Linked DNA regions of Homo sapiens: region 2 is linked to region 1. A link means that fine-mapping ties the variant in region 1 to the plasma level of a protein whose gene starts in the linked region. Region 1 holds a variant in brackets. A gene starts in the other region. All regions are shown on their forward strands.

The links. PIP is the posterior inclusion probability: the model's chance that the variant is causal. The UK Biobank Pharma Proteomics Project read protein levels with antibody pairs (Olink). The fine-mapping took linkage between variants from a reference panel, not from the people measured, so its PIPs are less certain.
Region 2: it holds the start of THBS2, and the variant in region 1 is fine-mapped to the plasma level of the THBS2 protein (UK Biobank, PIP 0.98).

The regions. Positions count from the first base shown.
Region 1 is chr5:40,932,964-40,940,963 of GRCh38, forward strand. C7 (complement C7) reads left to right here. Exons shown (of 18, transcript NM_000587.4): 4 at 1,362-1,503; 5 at 3,375-3,522; 6 at 4,589-4,727. Among named protein-coding and RNA genes, the nearest start is that of C7, 27 kb to the left of the region's middle. The variant T/C (reference allele first, on the strand shown) is at 3,476.
Region 2 is chr6:169,247,101-169,260,267 of GRCh38, forward strand. It overlaps THBS2 (thrombospondin 2), which reads right to left and starts at 6,746. Exons shown (of 22, transcript NM_003247.5): 1 at 6,624-6,746; 2 at 3,633-3,706; 3 at 1,317-1,873. The coding sequence starts at 3,684. RefSeq lists enhancers at 4,282-4,795, 5,308-5,820, 5,821-6,332.

The DNA.
Region 1 (8,000 bases):
TATGGAGAAGAAAAACACTTTCTTATGCAAACAACACCATCTGGGCTCTGGAACTTCACAAAAGGACACTGTTAAGTCACACATGAGCGGTATCTTCATCACTTACAAAGGGACTAAAAATGGTATCAAGAAACCTTACCGAGTTCCATTCCCCACTCATATTCCTCTGTGGCTCCTTTGCTTAAACATGATGAAAGACACCAGAGCCATGCTCAGGCTGGTGCGTACCTGCTCAGAGTTCAAATTATGGCCACTGTGACCCCTCATGCCAAGGAATTCCCACTTCTAACCCAATTTAGGATGGATGAATAAGTTCGACATTGATATGTACAGCAACTCTTCCCTGTTGATCTTCACTCAAGGTTTAAATCCTCAGGACGCTCAGTTTTGGTTCCGTTTTGTTTGTTAATGGAGAAGAGGTGAGTAGAGGAAGAGGCCTGGAAGATGCTCACTGATTGCCAGGGGTAGATCTTTCTTTTTGTTTGAATGTTAGATACATGTCTTCATAGTGAATGAGGATTAAATAAACTTTAGTATGAATTAGTTGTAAGTTTCTCATTTAGTTTGATAATTTCTTCAGTTTTCCTATATTCTTTTCCCTCAAGAGGTTTGTATTTTACGTATTCCTTTGTAGATGTAGCTTCACCTTTGGATTACTTAGGCTTCTGTTTTGTAAATTTGACTTCCATATTCATGTATTTCTCTCTGAATTGTTTTTGCTTGCCTTTCTTCCTGAAGAAGGCTTACAGTTTAGCTGAAAGGAATCACCATCACTCTTCTGAAGGTTTCCTTAACTCTGCTTCATCTTAACCCCTTTCCCAGTACCTTATCCTCTCTCCAGAAAAAGTCATTTCACTTTCTCTAATGAGCTCTTGGAACACAGATTTGGTAAATATATTAATCATTCTATGCTCTAATGTATTTGCTTATGTGTCTACCCTCTAAGCTTTACTCAGGTTACTTTCTTTTTTCTTTTCTTTTTTTTTTTTTGAGACGGTGTCTCACTTTATTGCCCAGGCTGGAGTGCAGTGGCATGATCTCAGCTCACTGCAATCAGGTTACTTTCTTAAAGATTCACTAACATCATTTTTTTTTTTTTGCATTTAATCCTGAAAGTCAATATATGCCTGGGAGCTCTCTATAAATAATAGCCAACATGTTGCTTAACTCAAGGACAAATAGGTCTGTGAATTCATTGATTTTGAGGTTTTATTTCTGTAGAACACCAGAACAATTTTCCAGACGTTGTTTTTCTAATTGTATTACTTTTTCTCAGATTTTATTACTCAGATAAAGGAAACTAGAGATTTCTTTGAAAACAAACAAATAAACAAACAAACCACTGCCTGCTTTGTGTTTAGACTCGCAGGCGGTCAGTTGCTGTGTATGGGCAGTATGGAGGCCAGCCTTGTGTTGGAAATGCTTTTGAAACACAGTCCTGTGAACCTACAAGAGGATGTCCAACAGAGGAGGGATGTGGAGAGCGTTTCAGGTGCTTTTCAGGTAACTTGTTTTCCATAGGCTCAGCATGCAGATTGTAAATTCAAACGTTATTTGGTGAACTTGCTCGTTATATATTTGTTAAATTTTACTGAATTTATATTGGCCTAAAGTTAATTCCCCCAAATATCATCAGGATTTTTGTTGGTATGTTAATCATCCACTCAGCTATCATTTTTTCAAATGCAAGGGGATGCATCTGGTAATAAACATAGGAATGCTCTTTGTCTCTTTGAATGGAACTCTAGTTACTGACAGACCCAAAAAGTTCTTGACAGTGTATTTTGAGTAAAGATGCAGAGTGAGTCTTGTACATATATTGAGATTAGACGAAAACAATGTTACTGCCTAAATTATTATATCTACAAGAAAAGCAACCCTAATGAACTGATTAAGGAGCAATACAGTTCTCTCCTATGCATGGGGTGATTGAAACACCAGTTTTGGCATAGAATATTATTTGACCAATACTCTATGTTGCATTTATGCAGTCAGATTAATGTAACAACATTTAGTAAACATTTATGATTCTTGTTTCAAATAGTGGTGAGAGTTGTATATACAAGTGAAACACATGCCTCTTCCCTCACAAATATTAAAGTTTTATGGGCAGAATAGTACATAAATAATCCCTGTGTTAGAAGTGCTCCTCAGTGATACCTGTTGAACGCTTATTTTACTTTCAAAATCCAAATTAGATAACCACTCCTTCAGGAAGCCTGCCCTAAATCCCCAACTGATAGAAGTAATTAAGCAATCACTTCCATATTTTCCTTATGCATATTGTACCATCTGTCATTTGGATGATTCGTTGGCCTGAATGTCTCTCTTGGTGAACTGTGAACTCCTTGAAGACATGAATTATATTTCTTACATGTTGACTTCTGGAGTCCCTGGTACATAATAAGTTCTCAACAAATGTTTGCTGCATTGGATTGAGTGGCAGTATAGCAGGGTACATGTCCTATAAGGACAGCTGTGCACCAAACATCCTATGAGGACATAGAGGAAGAACATGCATCAGAGCCTGTGAGGCAGCGATGGTTTTCAAGAGGAGATAATGTTTAATTTGATTCTTGAAGGACAAGTAAGAGATAGGTAGAGAAAACCCATCTAGGCAGAGAGAACTAACCAAGCGCAAGATCATTGGAGATGACAGAAAGCTTGGCCTTTTATTCATGCAGGTAGTCTGGTATGACTAGGGTATAAGAAGCTAGTAGGAGAATGGCTGGGGATGATGCTGGGGAGATAGGCAGGAACTAGATCATCTGGTACTCTCCAGTGCTTCCTTGGTACTCTAGATTTATGGCTATCATAACAATTATGATCTATGTCTTTGTAGTATTTCCTATTAGATTGTAAAGTATATGAAAAGCTGGCAAAGGCCATTTTTATTCATATTCGTATCCTAGCCCCTATTGTGCTACGGAAATGTTGAATTTTAACCTTTTGATAAAATTGTCCGGCTCTTAAAGCTTACAAATTTAAATTACCAAAAAAAGCTCAACTTTGTCATCTTAGAATGACAGAAAAAAAGTGAAAGTTGAAGGGCAGGAAGTCAGTCTATTTTCTCAGTAGTCGGAATTATATAATTTAGACAAGCTGCTTGATGATTATGGGTGAGATCCTGAAATTCTGAATTCAGATCCTATTTTCAATTTTGTGTCTGATTGAGTTAAGAACCATTTCCATGTGCCATAAAATGGAGACAAAATACTCACTAGTCCTTTCCGAGACACTCTGAGGATTTATCTCCCATTTACATTGGCGTATCAGTGCAGTGTTACAGGTAGCAGGAAAACCCTTTTTGGTCCTGGGTAGTGTTTCTCCTCTTCCCTCTTTTACATTTGCACGTGGATTTCTCTGGTGTTCAGGTCAGTGCATCAGCAAATCATTGGTTTGCAATGGGGATTCTGACTGTGATGAAGACAGTGCTGATGAAGACAGATGTGAGGACTCAGAAAGGAGACCTTCC[T/C]GTGATATCGATAAACCTCCTCCTAACATAGAACTTACTGGAAATGGGTAAGGTGCTGGGCAGCCTCCTGAGTACATCAGTGAATTGTAGTTTTAAATTTTGTTTTATTTTATAGTTTGGTAAGTCTACGAACAAGTCTTCTAATAGGCAAGATTATTCATTGGCTCAGAGCTCTTTGCCACATCCTGAGACAGTATTTTTGTTCACACATGTATACCTGTAGATACATGTGGTAGATGCAGAGTGACCCCTTGTCCTGGGATGGTCCTAGTTTTAGCGCTGAAATTCTAATTCCAAGAAACCCCTCAGGCCCAGGGAAACCTGGACAGTTGGTCACTTCATGGGGGTTGGAAGGGAGGGAGAGAGAGAGAAAAAATACTAATTCAATAATGTGGGGCTATTCAAGAGAATGAAGAGACAATAGAATGAGAACAGGATGAGAAGAGAGACAGAAGCAAGTGTGTTGTAATATCCAGGCTGAACAGCAATTGTCTAAACTAGCCAAGAACCTGTTTCCAAGTGAAGGTTGGAAAATACTGTGTTTACGTTATCAAAGAGAATTCTGAAGAATTTTTAAGGGTCATATGACTTGTTAAGGTTTCAAGACCTAAAAATAACCTATTTTAGAGTGAAAGAAGTAATTTTTCTGAAATATTTTAAAATTTATTAACAGAGAAATAGGGTAAAATTATTTGAAAGAGTACACCATTCAGTATGCTAAGAGGCAATTAGTTAAAATTTATTATAGAGAGCTCTCTCTCCTCAAGAGTAACCTTAATTGTATTGGTTTTATCTACAGATTCAATTCAAAACCAGCTGTTGCCATAGATACGAAAGAGCCATGTGTTTCCCAAATATGTTCTTAGATGGAAAGAATGTTGGATTTTCTGAGCCATTAGTTTTAGTGATTATACCAAGCAGGGGAAGCTGGATAATGTATGGTGTGTATTAGGATGCTGTGCTCTTCATTTGAACTCTCTCAAAGAAGTGTTTAAGTGTAATGCATTTTAAGAATTTGTAGAGTTCTGTAATAAACTTTTTTCCCCACCAAGTGCTATTTCTGGTTTTTAACGGCTTTTTATTTCCTCCTTCTCCTCCTCCTCCTTTTAACAGTTACAATGAACTCACTGGCCAGTTTAGGAACAGAGTCATCAATACCAAAAGTTTTGGTGGTCAATGTAGAAAGGTGTTTAGTGGGGATGGAAAAGATTTCTACAGGCTGAGTGGAAATGTCCTGTCCTATACATTCCAGGTACTTACGACGTTATTGATTTCCAATCTGGAATTGTCAGAGAGCATTATTTATATGATATTGACTTTTACGTATTTGTTGAGAATTTACTTATGGCCTAATGTGTGGTCAATTTTTATAAATGTTTTATGTTGACTTAAAAAGTATACACAGTGTTTTTGCTTTGGGGTACAGGGCAATGATACTTTTAACATGTGTCATTCAAGCTGACATATCCTTATACCTCATTTGTAACTTCATGTTCTATATAGGCCCAAGACCTTATTGTCTGTGCTGGTGTAGGCATTAAACTGAAGACCCTGTCCATGACTGGTAATGATAGTCTCCTGACACTGCTACAGTGTCAGCTCACTTAAAATGCTTTTATTTTAAAATTGTGAACTATTTCATATATACAAAAGGGTGTGGATAACATATATGTGTAATTTGAAGAAAACTGCCCTTATATGCCCACCATCTGCCTTAAGAAATAGAATATTGCCAGTGACTTAAAGGCTCCTCTATGCCCCTCTCTGATCACATCCCTCTCACTCCTCAGGCAACTACTATTTTATATTTTGTATTAATTATCCTTGTTTTTTCTATAAATGCTTATTCTTTATATGTTTTTGTCCCTAAATATAAATTTGTGATTTAGTTTTGCCTATTTTTTCCATTTGTATAAATAGAATCATATCTATTCTTCTGTTACTTTTTTCACTAAAAGTTATGGATTTGAGATTTACTCATGCTGTTGCAGGTGGCATTTTTATTGCTGTTTCCAATTTTTTCTTATGAAAATGCCTTGAACATTCTTGTGCCTGAGTCCCATACAAATGAACTAGAGCTTCTCCAGGGCATACACCTGGAACTCAAATTGCTACCTCATAGGATATGTATGTACTAAATTTTACTAGGTAAAGTATCCAAAATGGCTGGATCATTTCATACCCCAGCAGTGGGGATGAGTGGCCTCCACTTCACATGCTTGCCAACGTTGGTATTGCTTAACTTTTTAATTTTGCTTATGATCTCAGATCTCCTCTGTCTCCAGGCTTCTGTTTCTCAAAAGCTATTTCTGTCATACACACCTAAACTCACCCGTGAGTAGGTTTTGATCAACACAATACGTACTCATGCAAAACAGTTATGGCTTTAGGAAACTTTACGGAAGATTTAGAAGGAAGATAGAGGAGAGATTTTCTGTTGCAGTAATGCAAACATGTTGAAGCAATAGCGGTTGGCATCTTCTATCTTAAAACACTTCCACAGCCTCAACACAACGAAATTTCTGGTCTCATCGGGTGTTAGCTTCTTTCTTGCTCTCGTCTTTCAAGATCCCCTCTCTCACTCCTTTTCCTCCCTTTGTCCCCAAACTCCAAAAATGTCTAATTCAGCTTTTAATATTGATTACTTCTAAATTTGTAAACCCAAACTACTGAAATGTTCAGACAAAAGGGCCTTTTGCTTACCCAAATTAACCTTCTCCAGAAAGCAGCTTTGATTATAAATAGCAAACATACCGTCTTCCAATTTACCATAGAATAAGTTAGTTGCATTTAAGAGTTGTTGAGTAATATAAATGAGAAGTAAAACAGATCTGAAAAATAATTGTAGCTACCAGTTTTTGAATACCTACTGTGGCATCTACACTATTTTAGGTGATTAGCATAGGTTTAATTCTCACAGCAGCTTTGGAAAGTAAGCAATATTTTACTATTTTATATATGTAGAAACTGAGGCTTAAGAGGACTTCAGCTGACATACTCAAAGTCACCAAATTAAAAAGTAGTAGAGCTTAGATCTGGTCTGTCAGATTTCACAGCCTTTTATTTTTCCATTACATTTTACTCTCCCCATGTGTTTCACTTATTTTTCAATTCTAAATTCAACGTGGTGAATAACATGTATTACAATTTAACCTTTGGCCAGAAAGGAGAATGTAAGACAGGCATATACAGATAATTTTTTTTCTCCCTCTATACCTTAGAGAATATGTTCCTAATTCTTTCATAATTATAATGTGGAGACTTGCATGTATATTTTTGAAAGGGTCAAATTTAGAAAGTTACAGAGCAGAGAAAATAATAAGAAAGAGCGTTTCTGACTTCGTTGGAAGGTAGACAGGCAGGAAGTCTGCATTTCTGAAGAAGAGGGATAATTTATTAACAACGTGATCCTGACATTCATTTTCCTCAGCAGGGCTTGGTCTTTAGATTGACAACTGAAATGCCTTCCCCATCACTGAATGTGAAGGTGTTTGTCAGAGTAGAGGGAAATTATAGCCTGCTATAGAATGAGGAACAGAGATGTTTTGAGGAGCAGTCTGAGGGAAGTGAAGTGGAAGCCACAGGCAGTGAGTCAGCCATGCAAATGCTAAACTCAGGTGTGGACGCGGAGGTGGTGAATGTCCTCCATGGTTCAAATAAATTCATCTCGGGCCCACTGGGTATTCAGCTCTCTTTGAGGTGGAAAGTGACTTTTGGCTTATTGGAACATAAATATTAGTAGTAAATATAAAACAGAATCGGCCAGTCTCTCTTATAATCCCTGTTTCGGTTTTTAGCATCGCGGTTTATCCAGGGCAAACCCAATTTCTTGTCGAGTAAGCTACTTAACTTTGATGCTGTGCACATTCTCTGTCTACTTATACATTTTATACAACAAGGAAGGCATTTATGGCTTGGGAAGGTGCCCCTCTGCCTTGTTCAGCCTGAGAGATAGCAGAGGACTATTGTGTTTATTCTCAGTGTGTGATGAATTGCAGAAGGGAATGAATTATGATCAAGGTGGAAAAACTTCATGGCTTCTTCTGTGTTTGGTCTTGAATATACTTCATTATATATTTTGAAGAGAAATCCTAAATGCATATCAAATTAAAAACAAAAACAAATTCTAAAGGCAATTTTAATGAATGCTGCATTATCTAAGCCTTTGCTTCCTCTGTTGGTATGAGGACTAGATACCTGAGATTTCTAAATCTACCTTGTTAAAGGAATAATTTAAATGATGGTTAAAAATATCTCACATATAAGAACGCTTTGTATACTAAGCACTGTTCCAAGAGCTTTACATGGACCTATTTTCCTTATAATAACCTAAGGAGGTAGGTACTGGCATCTCATTTTACAAATGATAAAACAGAGGCAAAAAAGCTAAATAGCTTATCCACAGCATAGAAGATGACAAAGGTGGGATTTGAACTTTAGAAGTCTGGCTCCAAACCCCCTCAGAGCAGACACTATACTTACAAGCATTTTATATAGTATATATATGTATGTATATGCAGTGAAT
Region 2 (13,167 bases), not on the chromosome of region 1:
GGATTGCTAGAAACATTTGAATAGGGTTGATTCCTTGATCATCAAACCAGCCTCAATCTCAACTGACGATAATTAGTGCAGTTAGGGAAGCACACCTGGGGCAGCCCTCTCTGATTAATCGTGGTTTAGAAAGGCGTGCGTTGTGTGTGTGTGCGCTTGTATGTGGTGTTTGCATGTGAAAGGGTGAGTGCCTGTGTGAAAGTACGTATGTGCTGACAACTGCCTGTGGCTCTGCATGCATTGTGTGTGCACGTGTGCCTGTTTGTATACACATGTGTGATGGATGTATGTGCATGCATGAGTTTGCATGAGGTGTTTGTGTGTATGTATACGTGTGTATGAGTATGTGTGCATTTGTGCATGTGTATGTGTGTGTACATGTGTGGTTCTGTGTATGCATCTATATGATGTTCATGTGTTTATGTGTGGGGGATGTGTGAGTGTATGTATGGTGTTTGTGTAGGTATGTAAATGTGATGTGTGTGACTGTGTATGGTACTTTTGTGCACGTGTGTATGTGTGTGTTCACATGTGTGTGGTGTGCGTGCATTGCATGGCTGTGGGTGGTGTGTGCACACCTGTTTTGTGCACACATGTATAAGTGCTTACATATGGTTGTGTGCACATGTGCATGCATGAGTGTGTTCACATGTATGTGTGTGGTGTGTGTGCATGTGTGGTATGTGCACACGTCTGTGAATGTGAGTGCATGCATGGTGTTTATTTGTGTATGTGCATGGGTGCCCACGTAGGGTGTGTGCACGTGTGTGCATGTGTGTGTTCACATGTATGTCTGTGTGGTGTGCATGTGTGCACATGAGTGTATGAATGGTGTTTATGTGCGTCTGCATGTGCGTGCCCATGTATGGTGTTTGTGTGCACATGGGCATGCATATGTGAGGGTGTGTTCACATGCATGTGTATGTGGTGAGGTGTGTGTGTGCGTGTCTGTGTGTGTGTGTTGCGTGGTGTGTGTACATGTGTGATGTATATACATATGCGAGTGTGAGTGCATATGCAGTGTTTGTGTATATGTCTTTGGATGTGTGTTCATGTGTTTGTGAGCATGTGTGTTTGTGTGTGTGTGTGGTGTGTGTGCATGTGTGCACATGCCTGTGGCTGCGTGTGGTGGGCAGTGTGTGCATGTGCATGTGGTGTGTGCACGCATGTGTGTGAGCACATGCCGGGATGTGCAGTGTGCTTCTCTAAGGCCAGGCTCTGCCTGCTCAAGCATCGCATCACCAGACGCATTAGCAGATCAGTTCCCAGCTAAGCTCTTTCCTCCCTCACGGCGGCCACCTCCCTGCAGAGCGTACCCTGAAGTGACTCTCTCTGGCAGAGCCTTTGGCCACGTACATCCGGCTCTTTTCCGCCTGCAGGTGCTCGTAGAAGGGCTCGTCCAGAGCGAAGCTGTCTATGAGGTCGCAGCCCACGTGCAAGCTGTAGGTCTCGCCAGCCACCTGCACGGTGACGTTCTTCCACTGCGAGTCAGCCAGGCCGACGTCCTCCAGGGAGACCACATGCCGGGTGCCGTCAATCCAGTAGGTGAGATCCAGCGTGTCCGCGGGGCCGTTGGAGACGATCTCGAACTGCCTCTGGGAGAGACCGGGGCCCTCCAGAGCCAACAGCGTGCCCCTGGACTTGCCGTCCTGCTTGAGCTGGGCCGTGAGGAAGAAGCCCTCCTTCTGCCGCATGATCTTGGTGATCTTGCTGAGGTCATCTGCGTTCACCGGTGGGATGTAGTCAAAGCGCACGAAGCGGTAAGCCGGCACGCCGGGGTCGGGCCCGCGGAACTGCTTGGCGCCAATGGTCTTGCGGTTGATGTTGCTGATACTGAAAAGGTCGAAGGTCGTGTCTTTGTCCTGGTGACCAGCTGCAAAGGGAACCGCAGTGGAGAAGGGTGACGTAGGGGAAGAGGGCGAGGTTGGCCTGACCCAGGGTGACAAACCAGAACCTCGCGTGTAAGGAAATTAACGAGGCCTCCCAATATCCCGCAGCTTCTCTCCCTTTTTTATGGGAATCCTGGAGCCACCTCTGATGAAAAGCCACTATCCTCCGTGCCAGTGCCGCTACTCAGAGTGTGGGCCCAACGCAGCTGCGGGTCTGTGGGGTCAGTTTCTGCCCCTGGCTGGTCGAGGAGCGTGTGCCAGAAGGTAAATCGGTGGAGACAGGCAGCGCCCTGTCCGTTCAGCTGGCCCTTTGCATAGCCCGACCTTCTTGGTGAGGGAATCCCGGCCTCGCTTGACATCCTGGCACATGTCCCAGGTCACTCTGTCTGGCTCTTCCATCTCAGATCTGAGGCTGAAAAGCAGCCATCCTGTCTACCAGTTGATTGCTCAGGAAAAAACCAAATAAATGAATAAACTGGGAAAGACATGGATCTTTAGCCTTGCTATTGATAGAGTGTCAGAAAGCGGCTAAATCGTATGTTGCTTTCTTGTTGAGATCAACTGCCTAAAACCAGTTATGTCAGCAGGTTGTTATTTTGTAAAAATGTATTCTCCAACTCTTAATGCACCCTGTGGGTAAGGATCTGAAAGAGTGGTCAGTATCAAGTACAGAAACAAATGGTTTTAAGTCACCACCTAAGCTATTGGCAAGAAAAGTGATCAGATCTCACGAAAATCATAATAGTTTAAATAATTCAAAGCCAGGCGCGGTGGCTCACACCTGTAATCCCAGCACTTTGGGAGGCCGAGGTGGGTGGATCATGAGGTCAGGAGACGGAGACCATCATGGCTAACGTGGTGAAACCCCGTCTCTACTAAAAATACAAAAAATTAGCCAGGCATGGTTGTGGGCGCTTGTAGTCCCAGCTACTCGGGAGGCTGAGGCAGGAGAATGGCGTGAACCCGGGAGGCAGAGCTTGCAGTGAGCCCAGATCACGCCACTGCACTCCAGCCTGGGTGACAGAGCAGGACTCCGTCCCAGAAAAAAAAAAAAAAGTAATACACTGAACAGAAAGTTTAGCCAAAGCCTTCCTTTTCATCTAATATTTAGCAAATTAGAACAGGATAATACACAGGGTTGCTGACAGAAGTGGGCAATGGACCACTTTCCATAGAGTTACTTGGCAAGAATTAAAAGCTTTGATTCAGCAATTCTAATTTTGTAACCTATCCAAAGGATATAATCACAAATGCTACTTAAGATTTATCCACGTCAATATTTTTTGTGTCATCATTTATGCTAATGAAAATAAACCAATCTAAGTGGGAATTGATTGAAAAAGATCAGGCTTTATCTGTGATGAAATATTATGTGGTCATTAAAAATCATACTGTAGAAAAGTAAACACATGGGAAAATATTTAAAGGAGGAAGAAAGTGGAGCAAAAAGAATTCAACAAACACCAAATACTTGCAGTGTTGTGAACATCCTCTATAGAAAAAAGGATAAACTGTGCAACTCTAGGTGGAATTGCATTTTTCTCTAACACCTGAATTTTCCAAAGATAAATTATCTCATGTCATATTGGCTCAGAAGTAAGTTACTATTTGATTTATAAAGGAGCTAGAAGGTCCTCACGGGTAAGATTGTCCAACCACACACTTTATTTTGTCATCTCTCCCCTTGCAGCTAAGCCATATCTCACAAGCCAGAGAGAGACCACAGGCTCTGAGGACACTCACCTTGCGTGCTGGGCCACACCCACAGAGCCAGCAGGACCAGCCTCCAGACCATCCTGCCTCCTGCAGCTGAGCTCCTGGGAATACAGGAAACCCTTGTTAGTGATGAGTCCACAGCTGCAACCCTGCCTGTGAGCGAGACTGGCCCAGTGACTCACATGACCATTGAATAACAGTTTGCATATAAAACTCAGCACCAACTGGATTTGTGGCAAACTGAGAGCGAAGGAGGAAATTTACTCTTCAAGCAGGATTCTTCTAACTATAAGATTTGTTGAGCTAGCATTTGCCGGCAAGCACTGCACATCACGTTCTAAATATTCCTATTATTTCATCTTCATAATAGCCTGGGAGGTATGTGCTGCTCTAATTGTCCTCATTTTACAGATGAGCAAATGGAAGATGGGCAAGTTCAGCGCTTGCCTGGAGTAATTCTGTTCATACGACTCGTAGACAGGACTTAGATGTAGAAAGTTTGAATTTAGAAAAATATCCAGCCTGACAAAAATAATCTGTGAACGCATTTTGTGTAAATATCCAGCAAAAAACAGTTATGCATAACCTAATTAAATAGAATGAATATCAACTGTAAAAAAAAGTTACAAATAAACTTAATTTGGTGAATTATACTTACAAAACAACAGAACACTTGACTTAGCCATCATTTTGACCCTGCCTCTTTATTTTCCTGCAGGCCTGTTTTTCCATTCTTGGGGATTTTAAGTTGGCACAGCTCAGTGGAGGCTGGCCCCGAAGTCAGGAGATGTGGTCCAAAGCCCGGCTGGGCGATTAACCCTGTGGATCTCAGCTTCTCCTCTTCCGGGCGAGCATGAGCCTGAGGGTCCCAGGGCTCCCCAGGTCCCTTCCAGCAATTGGTCACACCCTGCTCTAGGTTGAAGGGAAGACTGAGACCCCAATTCTTCCCATATTTAGAATATCAAAGGCCGTTAACTTCTCATTGTTAATCCAAGGACTCTCCCTCTCCAGAAACAACATTTGGTAACCTGGAAATCCTCACCTTCCAGGAATAGAGAAACATTCCTCAGAAGAAGAGAAATGCTTGGCAGCACCTGCAGACCCCCCACCCATCTGCTGCTGGGACCCCCCCCCCAAACCATCTGCTCCCCCCAGTGCCGCCCCAGGGGTCCTTGGTGATTGTTTCATCTGTCCTGGCTCCGGAAGCAGCACGGCCTGCGGCCGGAGTCAGCACCAGGCTGAGCAATGCTGAGCACCAGCTGTGCAACCTAGGGAAACTTACTTAACTTCTCTGTCTCAGTTTCCTCATCCGTAGAATGAAACGTAGCGTCATGTAAAATGCCCACCTCATCGGGTTGTCATGAGAGATGAATTCGGCAAATGAAACTTCACCAGGGGCTGACTTAGCCCAGCGAGCCACAGGCATGGGTTACCGGAGCAGAATGTGCCTCTGGGTCTGGGGCGCTTTCTACTCTAACTGCCCGAGGCAGCTGCAGTAATAATGGTGGTGCTGATAGGGCCTTTCTATGGAGCTCTTAAGAGGGTTTAATGACAGGAGCGAACACTTGGCCATGAGCTTAGAACAGTACCTGCATGCAGTAAGCACCACAGAACGGTGTTAGAATACACAGCTCAGGTACAGCCTTGGCAGGCTCTTCCCACCTCCCCACCTCATCAGCCCACACTGCCGGGTACGTCGCAGTCCCCTAAGGACAGCTGTGTGGGGCTGGCCCTGCAGAGGCCAGCCAAGAACAGGATGGTAAATGCGAAAGTTCTGGATGCCCAGCTTCATAAGGACAGGTTAGAAAAACTAAATCAAACTCCTTTGACGAAACCAGATCCTACTGTCTCTGCCTTGAGGTAGATTCTTACAAGAGCAGGAGGCTAACAAAGCATCCCCTGCTGCGGATTGTCAAAGGACAGTGAGGCTCCATCCCACAGGAAGGATGAGCAGCCAGGCTACCTGGCCTCAGCCCATCCAGGGACACCGGGCATGCATGGATGGAGCCACGGATGAGCCAGTGCCGCTCACCCCTGCCCCAGCCTCTGCACGCCACACATCCACGTTTATGCTTGTGTTTTTCCAAAAGAAAGATTTCGGTGCCTGTCTGCAGCAGAATGTAGTTTGAATTTGCAAAGGTCTTTTAAAACTCTTTTCGTATGAACAATCAAAGTAAAAGATAGCTTTGCAGAGAGCTAATTGTTTACCGGCCGTCCACCACCAACAGCAGTCTGATTAAACACCAGACTCCTGGGTGCTCAGCTCCCAGTCCTGGGCAGCCAAACCCACCTTCCTTAAGTGGTAGCCAGGCAACCTGCCAGCTCGCTTTTCATATGCAAACTGCCCCAAGACTGTTAAAAGTCGCTGTGTGTCCCGGCAGTCACAGGATTTTCCATAGACTTACCACAAATACTCTCTAGTTATGTTCAAAACCACTTTTCAGCTGCTAATAATGTTAACAATCAGAGTCTCTCTTTAATCTACTAATAATGTTAACAATCAGAGTCTCTCTTTAATCTACTAATAATGTTAACGATCAGAGTCTCTCTCTAATCTACTAATAATGATGTTAACAATCAGAGTCTCTCTCTAATCTCCAGTTACTTTTCAGATATTCCGGGAGTTGTTTCTAATTCTCTCCTCAATAACAAACTCTCATGTGGAATCTTCTTCTTCGGAAACTGAAAACATAAAGCGTTTACCCGGGTTCCCAGGCAGGTATATACATTGAAATAGCAGCAGCCACAACCCTCAGAGAGGAAGGGGTGCCCGGCTGGTGAAAGCACAGCCACGGAGGAAAAGCTGAGGAGCGGCCACGTGCCTTGCTCTTCAAGCGGGCAGTAGAAACACCACGTGAAGAAACACTTGCCATTTAGTGTTAATAGATACACCACCCACCTTAAGTTAAGAATCGAAATTGCTCCTTTTTCTTCTCCGCTTCTTAGAGTTCGAGAACTCTAATTTCTTAAAATTAGAGCACCATTAAATAATTGATTGAGTTTAAGAAATAATCGTACCTGGTTTGCCAAAAAGATGCAGTGATGACTGGTTTCAGTGTTCCGGACCGAGTCAGAAAGGCGCAGGCTCTGCTGGAGCGAGAGACCGGCCCTGCAGTGCAGGATGCTCCGGTGGACGTGGCCGAGCGGCTCCCGGGCAGCGCGGCTTTATATGCCGCTTCTCCTGTGCAGGGCTGTCAATCAGACACACGAGGAAGCACGTTTAATTCATTCCTTCGAAGGAATGACATCATCCCCCTTCTGATCTCACCATTTGCTCCGAGTACCTGCTGCAGGGGTCCAAGTCCAGCCCCTCTGTACTGGATGCCGTCTCCTCCTCCTGCACCCCGGCCCCTGCCAGACAGGCCTGGGAGGAGCCAGACGGAGAGAGGGAAGGCAGGGACTCACTTTTCCTGTCTTCTCTCAGGAAATAAGATGCTATAAATAACACTAGCAAGATTGGCTAGAACTCCTCATTTTGCTTAAGAGAAAAAAATGCAAGTTCTATGCCTTAAATATGTTTCGAATTACTCAATGTGATATTGGTCTTTCTAAACCAAATGAGTGACTCTCAATAACACATGAAATACATCGGTGAGTATCAATAATCAGTCTGTATATTAATAAAGTTATTATGGTCAATAATCAAGTGTATTATGTGACAAAAATGAAATTTAATATAAAAGGAAGTTGCCAACATTTATCTCAGGCAGTTAGAGGACTGAAAAGCTGTACTGCAGCTTTGGGAAAATTCATTTTTACCCAAATTCTGCTTCATTTGCTCAGTGAGGATCCCCTAGAAGGACGTCTCCCAGTGGACGTGCAATACCCGTAGAAGGGTGTGTCCCAGTGGACGTACAGTACCCGGCCAAGTCCCCTTGGTGCACACTTGCACGTGGCCCCATCACAGGAACAACCTGACGTGCAGGCACAGAGCAAGGACTCGAGAGAACGAGAAGCAGTGGCAGCAGCTAACCCCCGCCCCTCCCACACCTCAGGCATCACCCGCAATCAGGGTGCACTCTGCATGGGGGTGGGGGGCACCGCTTCTCAGAGGTCAGGGTGGACGATGGATGCGGAGGGGCTGCTTCTCCCAGGTCAGGGTATACAGTGGAAAGGGGAAGCTGCTGCTCTAAGGTGGGGGTTGATGGTACATGGGGGAGGGGCTGCTTCTCCCAAGTTGGGCTGGACAGTGGATGGGGGAGGTGCCACTTCTCCCAGGCCAGTGTGAAAGGTGGATGGTGGAGAGGCTGTTTCTCCCAGGTCAGTGTGCAAGGTGGCTGGGGATGTGTTGTTTCTCCCAGGTCAGGGTTAATGGCAGACAGGGGAGCTGCTGCTTCTCCTGGGTTGGGGTGGACCTTGGATGGGGGAGGTGCTACTTCCCCAGGTGGGGTGGATGGTGACTGGGGAGCTGCTGCTTTGCCCGGAGCCACCTGCACCTGCTTCATGTCGGCACCTGCCTGTCAGGTTCCTTCACGTTTGTGTGGAGTTGTCAGCCTGGCCATGGATCCGTCAAGTCCTAGTTAGAGAACATTAAAGCGAATTTCTGTGGACACAACCCTTACTGTGTCTGTGGCAGGGGAGTGTCTCTTAAGCCTCCTGGCATTCCCCCACAGGGGTCCAGCGCTGCAGAGGTCGGCAGGCACCATGAAGAGCAAGCCTCACTTTCTGGCCTCTGTCTTCAGGGAGGATATGCGAGCGGGTGTGGGAGAGGGAAGGAGCTTTCATTTGTGAAAACCTCTGTTTTTCCTAATGGCACCTGTTTATTTATCACTTGGCAAACATCAGTTTCCGACACATGCACAGACAAAAGCCTCCAAGAGTGTATGTGTCATGTTTAAGGTACGTTATTTTGCTTTTTAAGCTATTAGGGACAAAGTCATCATTTGAATTAAAAAGTAGTTTAAATAGATTGATGTTATCTCAAATTCAAAAAAAGTATAAACCAGTTCCCCTTAAAGAATTTTCAGTGGATAATTATCCATTCATCAGTTTGAGTTTTTCTGCCTCCAGGTTAGTTTTTCCTGGGGCCAGAACATGGAGGGCGGCATCCCCTACTCTGCGTGCCACGGCCTCTCCTGTTCCTCAGTCCACAGAATGCGTGTTTCCTGATTAAAGCTGAAGACAGGCAGCTCAGCTGCTCAGCACTTCAGGAGCATGCGGTGAAGACCGTGACACTCACTGGGGAGCAGGAAGGTATGTATTCATGACTCCACGTGCCGATGGGCAGGTACAGAGAAGATGGGCCTCCTTCTGTAAAATCTGGCAGCCCAGAATCAGGGAAGTCTGTTTAGAGGAGACAGAAGGTAAGCCGATTGGAACATGGCCCGTGAATGGGGTGTCCCCAGTTGAGAAAGTATTTCAGGCAGAGAGAGTGGGTAGGTGTTCATGGTGCAAAGAACAGCAGGCTCCTGGTGCGGCACCCAGGCCAGGTGCATGGAATGGGCTTCATAGACGATGGAAGTCACAGAGAGTTTCCTGGCAGGGTGAGGCGGGACTTCATGGGCCCACTGTGCAGGGGACCAGAGGGGGAGTAGAGGGGACAGCCCCTGGTCAGCATCTTCCCTGGGCCCCCTGGGGGTGAGGAGGAAGGGAGATGTGAGGATGAAACAAAAAGCAGTCAGAGGCTTCGTCAGGAAAGCCAGCGATGCTGAGGGAAGCATCATCACATGTGTGCGCGGGAGGATGAGGGACAGACACGCAGCAGGTGGAATCATGTCCCCCCAAGTTCACATCCACCCCAAACCTGTGAATGAGCTTACTGGAAATACCACAGTGCTTGTGGATGAAATCAAGTGTAGATGTCGTCGAACTGATGTAGGACAGGCTCCAAATCTAATGGCTAGTGTTCTAATAAGAATAAAGAATATGAAGACGGAGACACAGGGCGAGCTCCGCTTGATGAAAGAGGCAGAGACCACAGTGATGCAACCACTAGCCAAGGTCACCAAGGGCTGCCAGAAACACCAGAACTGTGGGAGACAGGGAAGGGGCCTCTGCCAGAACATTCCGAGGACGTGCAGCCCTGCCACACACTGCATTTAAAACTGCTGGACTCCAGAACCATGGGACAATACATGTGTGTTGTTTGTGATACTTCATCATAGCGGGCCCAGGGAACTAATACAGGCACACCTTGGAGATACCGCAGGCTCGGTTCCACACCTCTGCAATAAAGTGAGTTGCATGGATTTGTGCTTTCCCAGTGCATATAAAAGGGATGTTTACACTCCACTATTGTCTATTAAGGGTGCAATAGCATTATGTCTAAGAGAACAATGTGCATATCTTAATTCTAAAACATTTCATTGCTCAAAACTACTAACCGTCATTTGAGCCTTCAATGAGCCGTCATCTTTTCGCTGGTGGAGAGTCTTGCCTCAATGCTGGTGGCTGCTGACTGATCAGGGTGGTGGTTGCTGATGGTTGGAGTGTCTGTAGCAGGTTCTTAGAGTAAGACCACAATGAAGTTTGCTGCATCTATGGACTCTTTTATAAAACGTTTCTCTGTAGCATATCATGGTTTTTGATAGCAGTTTACTCACACAATAACTTGTTTCAAAATTGATGTCCATTCTCTGAAATGCTGCTGCTGTTTTTTCAACTTAGCTTATGTAATAGTCTAAATTATTTGTTGTCATCTCAACATCTTCCCCAGGAGTGAAGCATTTCACAACATCTTCACTGGGAGTACATTTCATCTGAAAAAATCATTTTCTTTGCTCATCCTTAAGAAATAACTCCTGATCCATTCAAGTTTTATCATGAGAGTACAGCAATTCAGTCCCATCCTCAGGCCCAGCTTCTAACTCTACCTCTCTCACTCATTCCATCACATCTTCAGTGACTTCCTCTACTGAAGCCTTGAACCCTCAGGGTCATCCCTCATGGTGGGGTTTGGAAGAATCAGCTTCTTCCAAACTCCTGTCAGTGTTTATATTTTTCCTTTTCCCGTGAATCATGAATGTACTAGTGGCATCTAGAATGGTGAATCCTTTCCAGAAGGTTTTCAGTTGACTTTGCTCATATTCATCAGAGGAATCACTCTCTATGGCAGCTATAGCCTCATGAAATGTATTTCTTAAATAGTAAGACTTGAAAGTCCAAATGACTCCTTGACTGATGGGCTGCAGAGTGGATGTTGTGTTAGTTAGTAAGCATGAAAGCAACATCATCTCATTGAGCATTTCCATCAGAGTTCTTGGGTGACTAGGTGCATTGACCAAGAGCAGTAATATTCTAAAATAGATCATTTTTTGAGCAGTAGGTCTCAACAGTGGGTTTGAAATATTTAGTCAGCCATGCTGAGAACAGATTTGCTGTCATCTAGACTTTGTTGTTCCATTTAAAGAGCATAAGAATAATACCTTTAGCATAGCTCTTAAGGGCTAAAGATTTTCAGATTGGTAAATAAGCACAGGCTTCAACTTGAAGTCACCGGCTGCATTAGCCTCTAATAAAAGAGACAGCCTGGCCTTTGAATTTTTGAAGCCAGGCATTGACTTCTCCTCTGTAGCTATGACAGTTGGAGATGGCCTCTTCTAATGCAAGGCTGTTTCGTCTTCATTGAAAATCAGCTGTTGAGTGTAGCCACCTCCACAATGATTTTAGTTAGATCTTTTGGGTCACTTGCTGCAGCTTCTCCATCAGCACTTGCTGCTTCACCTTGCATTTTTGTCTTACAGAGATGGCTTCTTCCCTAAACTTCATGAACCAATCTCTGCCAGCTTCGAACTTTTCTTCTGCAGCTTCCTCATCTCTCTCAGACTTCACAGAATTGAAGAGAGTTAGAGCTTTGCTTAGATTAGGCTTTGGCCTCAGAGAATGTTGTGGCTGGTTTGATTTTCTCTCCAGGACACTCAAACTTTCTCCCTATCAATCAGCAATAAGGCTGTTCTGCTTTCTTATCAATGGAGTGTATTATATCCGATGGGCATATTTCAGTGGAAGCCGGATGGATGAGTCTAAAGCCTGGGCGATCCTTCATTAGAGATGATGTTTAAATCCATGGGCAGGAGACAGGTGAGGCCACTGGAAAGAGGAAGGCAGGAAGGGGCAGACAGAGCCTTAGGGCATGGACCTCTGGCTGGAGCTGAACCACAGGTGTGGTGAGGGAGAGGGCTCCCTTCTGCCCCAGAAACTCCTGTCCCTGAACCGTGGTTTCCGTTGTCAGGTTGTGCATGGACTGCGTCAGAAACAGCAAATCCTGGTGTGGCTCTGTTCCTTTCACAGTGACGCAGGGGGGTTGAAAAGCAACTGGACACATTGAATGTGCAGAGGCCTGAGCTGAAGAAAAGAGCACGGGCTGGGGACCAGGGCCAGGCACACTCGTCACAGCCCTTCTGACTCAGAGGTTTTTATATCACCTCCCCTTGCTCTTCTCTCTGGCCTGAACCTGCTTTCTAAGCACCCCAAGGTGATCTGGGGATACTTGCCGGATGGGCGCTGCTTGGAGCTTGTTAAAATTATCAAAAGAACAAGCAGACAGACTTCCCCTGCACGGCTTCTCCACCTGGAATGCGCACACAGGACACTGGGCCTGGCCCAAAGGCAGATTCCGACTCAGTAGGTGTGGGGTTGGGGAATCTGATGGTGGGTTTTGAACAAGCTCCCCTGCTCCAAGATCACGCTTGGAGTAGCAAGACTTTAGTGACTGTAACTCAGCAGGGCACTGTTATCCTGGCCACCACCCTGGGGTGGGTTTGTTGTCACACTCATTCTACAGAGGAGAAATCAAAGGTCCTGGCTCTGGCCTCGCCTTGTCGACCCTTGGGTCCTCGGGACCAGGATCCTTCCCTGGAGAGGGGCCCAGAATTCCCAGGGCCAGGGCTGAGGCCAGTCCCTCTGGCTTTGATTCCACCCAAGCTGCACTGACTTGGAGCATACACAGGAAAAGGAATGGGGGCTACTTTGTCGATTTGTTTGAGGCTCCATTTGCTCATCCATTTATTCAAAAATTACTCATTGAGCATCTGTGGCACCTAACACATCCCAGACACTGCAAACAGCACAGTACACATGAGGCATAAACAGGTCCCTGCCCTTTGGGGCTCCTATGTAGCCTGGCCTGCTGCCTAATTGAATTCCCACTAAGCCTCATGGAACTGTGGTCATCAGCTGATGCTCTGTGTCTTGTGTGACTGGAGCCCCCTACCTCACAGGTAACCGTAAGGGGTGAGCAGGAATCTTCTGCTCATTTCTGTTGTGCATAAATTCTAATTATGTCCCGGACACCACAGATTCCCTTTCCCAGGTGTTGTGCAAACATTCCAAGGCACGTGGCAGGGCCTTCTCGGACATTTGTGTGGCCCCCTTCTTCACCTGCCCAGCCATCACTCCCCTTGTAAACCCAGCGTGGACCTGAGCCCATGCGCTCCACATCAGGAGGCCCAGGGGCTGCGTTCATGGCCCAGGCTTCCTGTGGGCATAGCCCAAGCCCCCTCCCCCTATCCCCTGCCCTGGAGTGGAGGTCATCCCTGGAGTGGAGGGAGGCCATGCCTGGAGTGGAGGTCATGCCTGGAGTGGTGGGAGGTCATGCCTGGAGTGGAGAGAGGTCATCCCTGGA